3 linked regions of the Homo sapiens genome follow. The gene in region 1 interacts genetically with each later gene. Each region holds a gene or a part of one and is shown in the gene's direction. Other genes may lie near its edges.

Region 1 (3,260 bases):
CCAGGATGCCCGTGACTGTGTTAAGGGGCAGAAGGGGTGGGAGTGCTCTTGTGGCCCACCTGCTCTCCCTATGCGTGTCACCATCATGTCATCCTTATTCCACCTGCCTGCCTTGATAGCCCACAGCACAGGATCAGCCACGGCAGACCATGGGGCTCAGGCTGGCTCCCAGGGCCACGCAGTTTGTACTTGGATGACATGAAGTCAAATTGCAGGCTGCGGGACCTCCCACTTCCAGGACCTCCACAACAGGGCCACAGCAGGTGGCCTTTGCCCAGCAGGAAGGGCCCCCCACCCCACATCTTAGCCTGCTAGGGCTGCCACAGCGAACGACCACAAACTGGGTACTTGAACAACAGATGTGTGTTCTCAGTTCTGGAGGCAGGAAGGCTGAGACCAAGGTGCTGCAGGACCATGGGAGGTTCTGGGGGCTTATTCTTCCCTCCTTCAGTTCCTAGGGGCTCCAGCCACCCAGGGCTCCTTGGCTCCTGCCCGTATCCTCTAGTCTCAGCCTCTGTCTCTGTCTGTGCTTCCTCCTCTTCTGCCCCATATAAGGACATTGTCACTCACTACAGGGCTCACTCTAATCCAGAATGAGCTCCTATCGGGACCTTTCACTTAATTACATCTTCAAAGACTCCCCTTCCCCAATACGGTCACATTCTCACGTATCTTTTGGGGATCACCATGAAACCTGCCACCCTGATCATCAGCTCGCTTCCCTGAGAGAGGGCACACTCTCTCCGCCCCCACCCCACCCTGACCTCAGCCTCCTTCCTTGCTGCTGCCCAGTTAGGAGGCGTCCTCCTTGTCTGCAAGCTCTTGGGGCATGTAAGCAAGGAAGGGAAGAGGAGATGAATCCATGCTCCTTCGCCCAGGACCAGCTCCCTGCCTGGCAGGGTCCACGGGTCCCAGAACCGTGCCACTTCCCTGAGCACCTGTTCTGTGCTGAGCTGTGTGTCAGGCACCCTGGACAGGCTGACAGAATGAAGAAAACACAGTGCAGCCACTTTATAGGGAGTGCTGGAGCCCACTGTGCATTCCTCCTGGGGAACGAGATCAAGACACCACCTCCTGGGGTGTGTGGTCTTGCAGCCACTGGAGGAGAGGGACCTCGGGCCTGCCTGTGCCCCAAAGCTCACCTGACCCCTGACCTGCGGCACTTTAGGGCCTGTAGGGCCCCTTCCACGCCCTCGCCTCTACGGTGTCAGACTCTCACCTGGACAGGAGTCCCTGACTCACTAGAGAGCTCCTCCCCTTCTAGGTGGGCTGTGGCAGGAGGCCCTCCCAGAGGCCCCTCCATTGGGGTGCAGACCCCTTGAGTCATAGCTCTAGCCACCACACCCGTCTTTGCCAGGTTCCTCTTCCGGAGACCAGGAACTGGTCACACATCTGTGTCCCCAGTGTCCAGCCTGGCAGGGAGTGGGTGGCAGCCTTGAAGAGTGAAGGAGGGAAGAAATGAATGAATCAGCGAGTGGGTGGGGTAGGCCGGCTGGGCCGTGCAGGCCAGCCCAGCCCCCGACAGTCTCGTGTCCCTTACAGATGTGCTGGTGGACGGACAGCCATGTGACCGCGAGGCTGTGGCGGCCTGCCAGGTGGGCGACCCCGTGCGCCTGGAGGTGCGGCTGACCAACCGGAGCCCGCGCAGCGTAGGGCCCTTCGCCCTCACTGTGGTCCCCTTCCAGGACCACCAGAACGGCGTGCACAACTACGACCTGCACGACACCGTCTCCTTCGTGGGCTCCAGCACCTTCTACCTCGACGCGGTGCGTGGTGGTGTGCAAGGCGGTCTGGGAGCCTCTGGCCATGTGGTCATCATCCCCCCTTCCCTGGGTGGTGGGCTTTGGGGTCAGCATATGTCCAGCAGACGATAGCAGCAGGGGTTCTGTGGTCACGTGTGCACACTGAGTCTGAGTCTGCCCCATTCACTGCAGGAACTTAGACAAGCTCACCTGTCTCTCAGTCCTGGACAGTGAGGCCCTCAGGGTTGGTGAAGCAGGAAAATGTGCAGGGAATGGGAGCTGTGCCCAGGACAGGGGGCTGCTCCATGATTGGACCCTGCTGTGGCATCACTGTGATGTCACTGTCACCCATCCCGTGCCTGCCGCTCCTTCCACGGAAAGGCTCCAGCCCTACGCCCTCAGCCCCCACCTCCCACCTCCTACCTCTCAAGCTGCCTCTCAGCACCTCACTGTCAGGCCCCAGCACAGGCTAACATTCCATTCCCCTCTGCCCCAACCTCTCCCTCACTCCCTCCCACACTCCTGACCCTCCCACACTCCTGACCCCCTGAGCCCCCAAACAATTCAGGAATGGGAATATTGGCAGCTCCTTTCCAAGATGAAAACTGGCTCGGAGAGGCGCAGTGACCTGCTGGAGGGGGCACTGGAGCCAGGCCTGGGCGGCCCTCGCTTCCCCCATAACACCTATGTCCAGGCAGATTCCCAGGATTCCTGGTGGCTTTGGGTGGCCCCTGCTGCTGACCAGACTGATGTGTCTTTCTCCTCCCTGCTCAGGTGCAGCCGTCCGGCCAGTCGGCCTGCCTCGGGGCCCTCCTCTTCCTCTACACGGGAGACTTCTTCCTCCACATCCGGTTCCACGAGGACAGCACCAGCAAGGAGCTGCCACCCTCTTGGTTCTGCCTGCCCAGTGTGCACGTGTGTGCCCTGGAGGCGCAGGCCTGAGCCCGCCTACTTCCGTCCCTCTTTCTGCAGGGCCAGAGGTGACCCTGCCTGGCCTCCCACACCCCCTGCAATGAGCAAGGCCTTCACTGCAGCCCCATCTCCTCCTCCTCCCCCAGACCCCTCCCAGCCCTCTCCTCCTGTTCCTCCTGTAGCATCTTTGCTGGGCTACGCAGAAGCCCCGGACATGGCAGCCCCACCCCATGCCACGCCCCTTCCTACACTGTTCCCTGGACCATACACAGGCTGAAGCAGAGGAAATCCCAAAGCGGGTGCCCATCCAGCCCAGGTCCCAGGATCCCTGCACCCATTTCTGTGACCTGGGGCCCCAGCCGTGCTGTGCTGCTCATCCCAGCAGAGGGACCTCCCTCGTCCAGCGACTTCCCTTTGGCCATAGAAAGAAATGGTGAGCATGAGACTGGGCACAGCCTGAGGGCGTGGGCAGCTTCCCACCCTCCCTGGGCCTTGGAATCCCCCAAGGCTGGTTTTCTTCCTGGAGACCCCCATGGGCAACTTGGCAGGAGAGATGGTGCCGTAGGAGGTCGTGGATGGTTGATGCCAAGAGAGGCCCTCCACCCG
Region 2 (3,500 bases), on another chromosome or scaffold:
AACAAAAAAAAAGTAAATGTATATGTACTAGAAAAAAACAGAACACAAAAAACACCCTTAGAGATTTTAGTTGTTTCTTCCCTTCCTCTCTTTTTCTTTTTTTTTTTTTTTTTTTTTTTTGAGGCGGAGTCTCGCTATGTCGCCCAGGCTGGAGTGCAGTGGCGCGATCTCGGCTCACTGCAAGCTCCGCCTCCCGGATTCGCACCATTCTCCTGCCTCAGCCTCCCGAGTAGCTGGGACTACAGACGCCCACCACCGCGCCGGGCTAATTTTTTGTATTTTTAGTAGAGACGGGGTTTCACCGTGTTAGCCAGGATGGTCTCGATCTCCTGACCTCGTGATCCGCCCGCCTGGGCCTCCCAAAGTGTTGGGATTACAGGCGTGAGCCACTGCGCCCTGCTCTTTCTTCTCTTTTTCTTTCCTTCCCTTCCTTCATTCCTTCCTTTCTTCCCCTTCCCTTTCTTTTCTTTCTGACAAGTTCAGTTCCTCTGTTGCCCAGGATGGAGTGCAGTAAAATAATCATGGCTCACTGCAATCTCAAACTCCTGGGCTTAAGCAATCCTTCCACCTCAGCCTCCCCAGTATGTGAGATTGCAGATGTGCACCATCATGCCCAGTTCATTCTTTAATTTTTAGTAGAGATGAGGTCCCAGTATGTGAGATTGCAGATGTGCACCATCATGCCCAGTTCATTCTTTAATTTTTAGTAGAGATGAGGTCTTGCTATGTTGCCCAGGTTGATCTCGAACTTCTGGGCTCAAGCAGTCGTCCCACCTCAGCCTCCCAAAGTGCTGGGATTACAGGCATGAGCTACCATGCCTGGCCTGGATTCTTTGATTTTTAAAGTTCCAATTAATGAACTGTTGGGCTAAAGATGAAAAACCAGGCTAAGTAACCTATATTGATAAGCAGACATTCCTAGTTCATGTTATGAAGGAAAAACAATGGCGTCGATTTATCAGGACGTGGAGACGGGAGAGGAGAGGAGAGGGAGGCTAATTTTTAAAAACTTTTTGGAGAGACGGGGTCTCGCTGTATTGCCCAGGTTGGTCTTGAACTCCTGGACTCAAGTAATCATTCTGCCTAGGCTTCCCAGGCATGAGCCACCATGCCTGGCCCATCCCCCCACACCCCCAATTTATAAACCATTATTTCCCATTAACTAGTCTTGTCAAAGGTTATCACTGGACTTTTCTGTGAAGGTTTAGAAAATTCCCTGGTTCTCGCCAGGCGCGGTGGCTCATGCCTGTAATCCTAGCACTTTGTTTGGGAGGCCAAGGTGGGTGGATCACCTGAGGTCAGAAGTATGAGACCAGCCTGGCCAACCAGCATGGCAAAAACCCATCTACTAAAAATACAAAAATTAGCCTGACATGGTGGCAGGCACCTGTAATCCCAGCTACTCAGGAGGCTGAGGCAGGAGAATTGCTTGAACCCGGGGGTTCAATCAAAGAAAATTCCCTGGTTCTCTAAACATGGAATTACTGAAATCTGGATTTAGGTTCAAACCTGCCTCTTGGGCTTTGCCTACTGCAGTAGCTCAACAGTTCTCTGGCTAAAAAATAAAAATCAGTGTGTAATTCAAGTTCAATTCATTTAATAAATACTCAAGTATCTACTATGTAGAAGGCACTATACATGGGGTTTTAAACAACTCGGACTACCAGCTTATTTATTAGTTGTGTGACCTTGGGCAAATTACTTTTCTACGACTCAGTTTTGTGAAACAAGGATACCACTTCTTAGTTTGTAGGACTGTTGTAAGAATTAAATGAAATGATATATTCAAAGCACTTGGAACATAGCAGGTGCTCAACAAATGTTAACTGTGACCCTCTGCCCTTCCCCGCAAAGAGGACTTAAACCAAAATAAACCTTTGTTTAAAATAATCCATATTTGTGAATTTAGGCATAAAAATACCCACAATTAAAGGACTTGTCAACTAGTTTTTGTTGCAGATTATAACTAGTATTTGATTTTTGGTCTGTATAAAGTAAAACTCTTGCAACCTGGAATCCATCAAAATTCAACCAGTCCTGAGTTGCATTTGATTGATTCTGCAATAAACTACAATAGAAGGGTAACTCTGCTAAGTAAATAGTACAAATAAAATAGCAAAGGATTGTTTACCACATTTCCCTACCTGAGACAATACACTCTTGAATAAATAACACTTTTAAACTACTCATTTAAAAATAATTTCCTGTTTACCTAAAAGTCACAAGAGTAGTATATTCTTTACCTGGACTCCGTAATTGTTAATGTATCGTCCTGTGTAATTTATTATTCTCTCTGAATGCACACACACAGGTATTTTTTTCCCCTGGACTATTTGAGAATAAGTTACATAATTCATGCTTCTTTATCCTTAAATCCTTGTTTTTCCTAAAAACATGGACATTCTCTTATAAAGCCAGCAGAGTTGTCTACTTCAGGAAATTTAAGTGACCTCGCCAGAGGCTAAGACTCGTGACTCCTATAGTGGTTGAGGAGAGATAGTTGCCTGCCTGCTGGGTGGGAACCTGGGGATCTGATTACTTGGAAGACTTCCTAGAGATCCTCGTCTTTTCAGCTTCTCATTCCCCTCCTGAGGTGTTTCCAATTCCTGAGCCTTTTTAGGACTCTAGGTCCAGTCAATTGACCTTTCAACCACAACTCTCACTGTAGTCACTTAACAAGGCCAAGGAGGCGCAAACCAAAGGCATTTACCATTCTTCCGTTTCTTCCTATATTGTGGTCTTTTCATTTCATAACAGAATTTAGTTTTTATTTTGTTCTCCTTATTTGTTTGGAGGAGTTATTAAGTTAGAAAGCAGATAACAAAATAGTCCAGCAACTCGATCAACAAAATTTTCATTTTTCATTGGGCATCTTTTGTTAAAGTAAACTGTATCTATACATAATCATTCATATACATTGAAAAGAAACCAGAAGTATGTATACCAAAATGTTGTGGTTGGTTGGTTCGTTTTGAGACAGAGTCTCGCTCTGTTACCTAGGCTGAAGTGCAGTGGTGCAATTTCGACTCACTGCAACCTCTGCCTCCCGGGTTCAAGCGATTCTCTTGCCTCAGCCTCCCAGGTGGCTGGAATTACAGGCACCCGCCACCACGCCCAGCTAATTTTTGTATTTTAGTAGAGGTGAGTTTTCGCCATGTTGGCCAGGCTGGTCTTGAGTTCCAGACTTCAGGTGATCCACCCACTTCAGCCTCCCAAAGTGCTGGGATTACAGGCATGAGCGCCCAGCCTGTTTGTATTTTGAGACAGGGTCTCACTCTGTCGCCCAGGCTGGAGTGCAGTGACACGAACACAGCTCACTGCAACCTCAACCTCCCACCTTAGCCTCCCGAGTGGCTGAGACTGCTACCACGCACCATAATGCCTGGCTAATTCTTTGTATTTTTTGTAGAGATAGGCTTTTGCCACGTTGCGGAGGCTGGTCTCAAGCTACTGCACCTGGCCTCAAAATGTTAACAGTAGGGCGCGGTGGCTCACACCTG
Region 3 (3,500 bases), on another chromosome or scaffold:
AGGACCCTCTGGGGATAACAAAATCTATGGATGCTCAAGTCCTTTATATAAAATGGCATAGTACAGATGATCCCTGACTTACAATGGCTCAACCTAGATTTTTCAATTTTATAATAGCGTGAAAGTAATGTGCATTCAGTAGCAACCGTACTTCAAGTACCCATACAACTATTCTATTTTTCGCTTTCAGTATAGTATATAATAAATTACATAAGCTATTTATATTTAGTATAAAATATGATTTGTGTTAGGTGATTCTGCCCAACTGTGGGCTAATTTAAGTGTTCTGAGTACATGAAAGGTAGACTAGGCTAAGCTATGATTTTGGATAGGTTAGGTGTATTAAACACCTTTTTGACTTACGATATTTTCAAATTCTAATTGGACATAACCCAATCATGAGTTGAGGAGCATCTGCATTTGCATATAACCTGCACACATCCTCTTGTGTATTTTAAATCATCTCTAAATTACTTGTAACATCTGATACAATGTAAATGCTATGTAAATAGTTATTATACTATAGTTTTTATTTGTATTTTTTGTTTTTTGTTTTTTTTTCAAACATTTTTTATCTGTAATTGGTTGAAACTGTGGACATGGAACCTGTGGATATGGAGGGCCAACTGGATTCTCTTTTTAAAAAATATGATAGTTTGTTGGTTTTACCAAAAATATAAATGGTTTGCCTCTCAGTAGATAACATTTATCTTTAATAAATTCCCTTCCCTATCTTTTAAAGATCTCTTTTCGAGCACATATACCGCCATTGGGACTGAAAGTGTATAAGATTTTGGAATCAGCAAGTTCAAATTCACATTTAGCTGATTATGTCTTGTATAAGAATAAAGTAGAAGATAGCGGAATTTTCACCATAAAGAATATGATAAATACTGAAGAAGGTATAACACTAGAGAACTCCTTTGTTTTACTTCGGTTTGATCAAACTGGACTTATGAAGGTATGTTCTGAATAGTTCTAAAATTCATAGAATGCTTATCATTTTTGCTACAATGTGTGTAGATTAATTAGGCAAAAGGGGAAAAAAGTCTTAAGTAGAGCTGTATCAAATACTCTTGAGTAAAAGGAAGCATGAGCTTTTTGCACCTTCATTGACCACTTGCTGCTCACATGTATAGTCTGTGGGTGGCGCTACTCCGTGGTCTGTGTGTCACTGGTCCACCAGATAAGTACAGAAATTATTTTTTTAAATTGTCATATACATAGAACCAGATGCAACATGCTTAACATCTTAGTGGTGAGTTGCTTATTATTATTTTTTTTAATCTTTAGCAAATGATGACTAAAGAAGATGGTAAACACCATGAAGTAAATGTGCAATTTTCATGGTATGGAACCACAATTAAAAGAGACAAAAGTGGTGCCTACCTCTTCTTACCTGATGGTAATGCCAAGGTAAGTGGTACTGATGAGATGACAAATGGAATAAACACTTATTGAAAGAGTATTGAGGAAAAAGATAAGTGAGTGTCATTATTTTATCATCTGTTGATTTATTAGGGATAGATGAACTTTTGGTTGCAGTATTATCTATCACCTTATTGATACTTAGCAATTTGTAGTCGAAAGTTAGATAAATGGTTGGGCGCAGTGGCTCACACCTGTAATCCCAGCATTTTGGGAGGCCAAGGAGGGTAGATTGCTTGAGCTCAGGAGTTCAAGACCAGCCTGGGCAACATGGCAAAACCCCTTTTCTACAAAAAATACAAAAATTAGGCATGGTGGCCTGCACCTACAGTCCCAGTTACTCAGGAAGGCTGAGGTGGGAGGATGGCTTGAGCCCGGAAGGCAGTTGCAGTGAGCCAAGATCACGCCACTGCACTCCAGCCTGGGTTGACGGAGCAAGACCCCGTTAGATAAATAGTTTTTTAGAGTTGGAATTTGTTAAGATGCTACAATGAACAATGTTCAGTTAGGATAAACAATGAACATGGGAAGAAACTAGATTTTACGTAGAGTTAGGGAGCTTTATATGTATGCATTTTATACAGACACAAAACCTCTAGCCGTATGGGAAAAATAGATTTTCCACTGGACCATTTTTCTCCTTAACTTTCAGCCCTTTAAAAAACAAATCTTTCTCACTCTTGACTATAAAGGTAGTAATACGCAAACTCTGGCACATTTTGAAAATGCCAGAAACTAAAGAAAACATTAAAATTTACCAACAGGTGCACAATCCCATGAAAACCATTGCCAACATTTGGATGTATTTCTTATTGTCTTTTATTTTATGCATATCCTTTTCTCCCCGTTCTCAAGTCTTGACTTATTGCATGTACATATTTTGTTTTTCATTTGTGACAGTGCTCACAATCTGATGGTATGTTTTTTAAAAATCCAATTTTAATATATACTGTTGTGTTTAAGATGTTGCTTATATTCTTTTTCTCCCGATTCTTCACTACCATAACATTGTAATAAGCTTTCTTTGTAGCATTCAAAAAGAATGCTACAATGCAATTCTGATTAATTGCTGAGAATAACTTTCTAGAAGAGTCATTTTGTATCAGTGTCTGAAGTCTTTTAAGGACTTTTGCTGTGTACTGCTTATCTTCCCTCTAGAAAGACTAGGTAAATGTTCAATCCCACCAGCATTTTTTGAGATTAACTCTAAAATCCCACTCCAAGCACTGAGAATTGGCCATATTACAAGCTTTGCCTATAATAGTAAGTTAGTAGAAAAATATTTTTCTGTTAAGATTTTTGTGGTTACTAGTAAGGTTGAACGTTTTTGTACCTTCATTTATCTTTCATATTTCTTTTGTGATTTTCCTATTTCTATTCTTTGACTGTTTTTCTGTTGGTGTGTCCTGATGATCTCTGAGCACTCTATATGTGGTAAAATTAATCCTTTTCCCTATATGTTGTAAAATTTTTCTTATTGTGTCATTTAGTTTGTTAATTATTTTATTGTATTTCTCATTTATAGTGGTTTTAAATTTTTGTGTAGTCATTTCTTTTTTTTCTGTAGAGTTTCTTCCTTTGCTTTTATACCTTTATAGGTTTTCTATACCTCAAGATCAGTGAAATGTTATCCTAATTATTGTCTTGTTAGCTAGGGACCTATCTCCTGAAAAAGTTACTTTTGTTCCACAAGTTATGAAACCTGCTAACTAAAATCCAATACTGGATTTTAAGGGATTGTGTAGGCTACAGTAAGGACTCTAGGTTTTTTGTTTGTTTTTGTTTTTGGTTTTTTTTTTGGCTGTTTGGGGTTTTTCTTTTTTTTTTTTTTTAAGTCAGTGAAGAATTAAAGACAAACTACAACTCATATGAGGCATTCCAGGATGGGCAGTGAGTCCCAAATATGAGCTGTTTCAGTGTTTTCTCATTCACCAGCTTTTGTCATTGGACATTTTATTTTGATTGACTGTATTTATACTTAAAAAAGTAGTTGTGCTATAGAATTTCATGCGTAGATACCAATAACTAATTTATTTAAAACCATTTTATCTTTAAATAGCTCTAATGTCAGA

Evidence for each region.
Region 2: changes in TRAPPC9 (region 1) and SLC30A5 together harm fitness more than expected from each alone (negative genetic interaction), as found in Homo sapiens cells (one large-scale study listed by BioGRID).
Region 3: changes in TRAPPC9 (region 1) and MAN2A1 together harm fitness more than expected from each alone (negative genetic interaction), as found in Homo sapiens cells (one large-scale study listed by BioGRID).

The regions. Positions count from the first base shown.
Region 1 is NC_000008.11:139,730,485-139,733,744, reverse strand, and holds part of TRAPPC9 (trafficking protein particle complex subunit 9), read left to right. Parts: intron 1-1,542; coding exon 1,543-1,766; intron 1,767-2,516; coding exon 2,517-2,684; 3' UTR 2,685-3,260. UniProt on the Homo sapiens protein: Functions as an activator of NF-kappa-B through increased phosphorylation of the IKK complex. May function in neuronal cells differentiation. May play a role in vesicular transport from endoplasmic reticulum to Golgi.
Region 2 is NC_000005.10:69,097,014-69,100,513, forward strand, and holds part of SLC30A5 (proton-coupled zinc antiporter SLC30A5), read left to right. Parts: intron 1-3,500. UniProt on the Homo sapiens protein: Together with SLC30A6 forms a functional proton-coupled zinc ion antiporter mediating zinc entry into the lumen of organelles along the secretory pathway.
Region 3 is NC_000005.10:109,818,927-109,822,426, forward strand, and holds part of MAN2A1 (alpha-mannosidase 2), read left to right. Parts: intron 1-742; coding exon 743-961; intron 962-1,293; coding exon 1,294-1,416; intron 1,417-3,500. UniProt on the Homo sapiens protein: Catalyzes the first committed step in the biosynthesis of complex N-glycans. It controls conversion of high mannose to complex N-glycans; the final hydrolytic step in the N-glycan maturation pathway.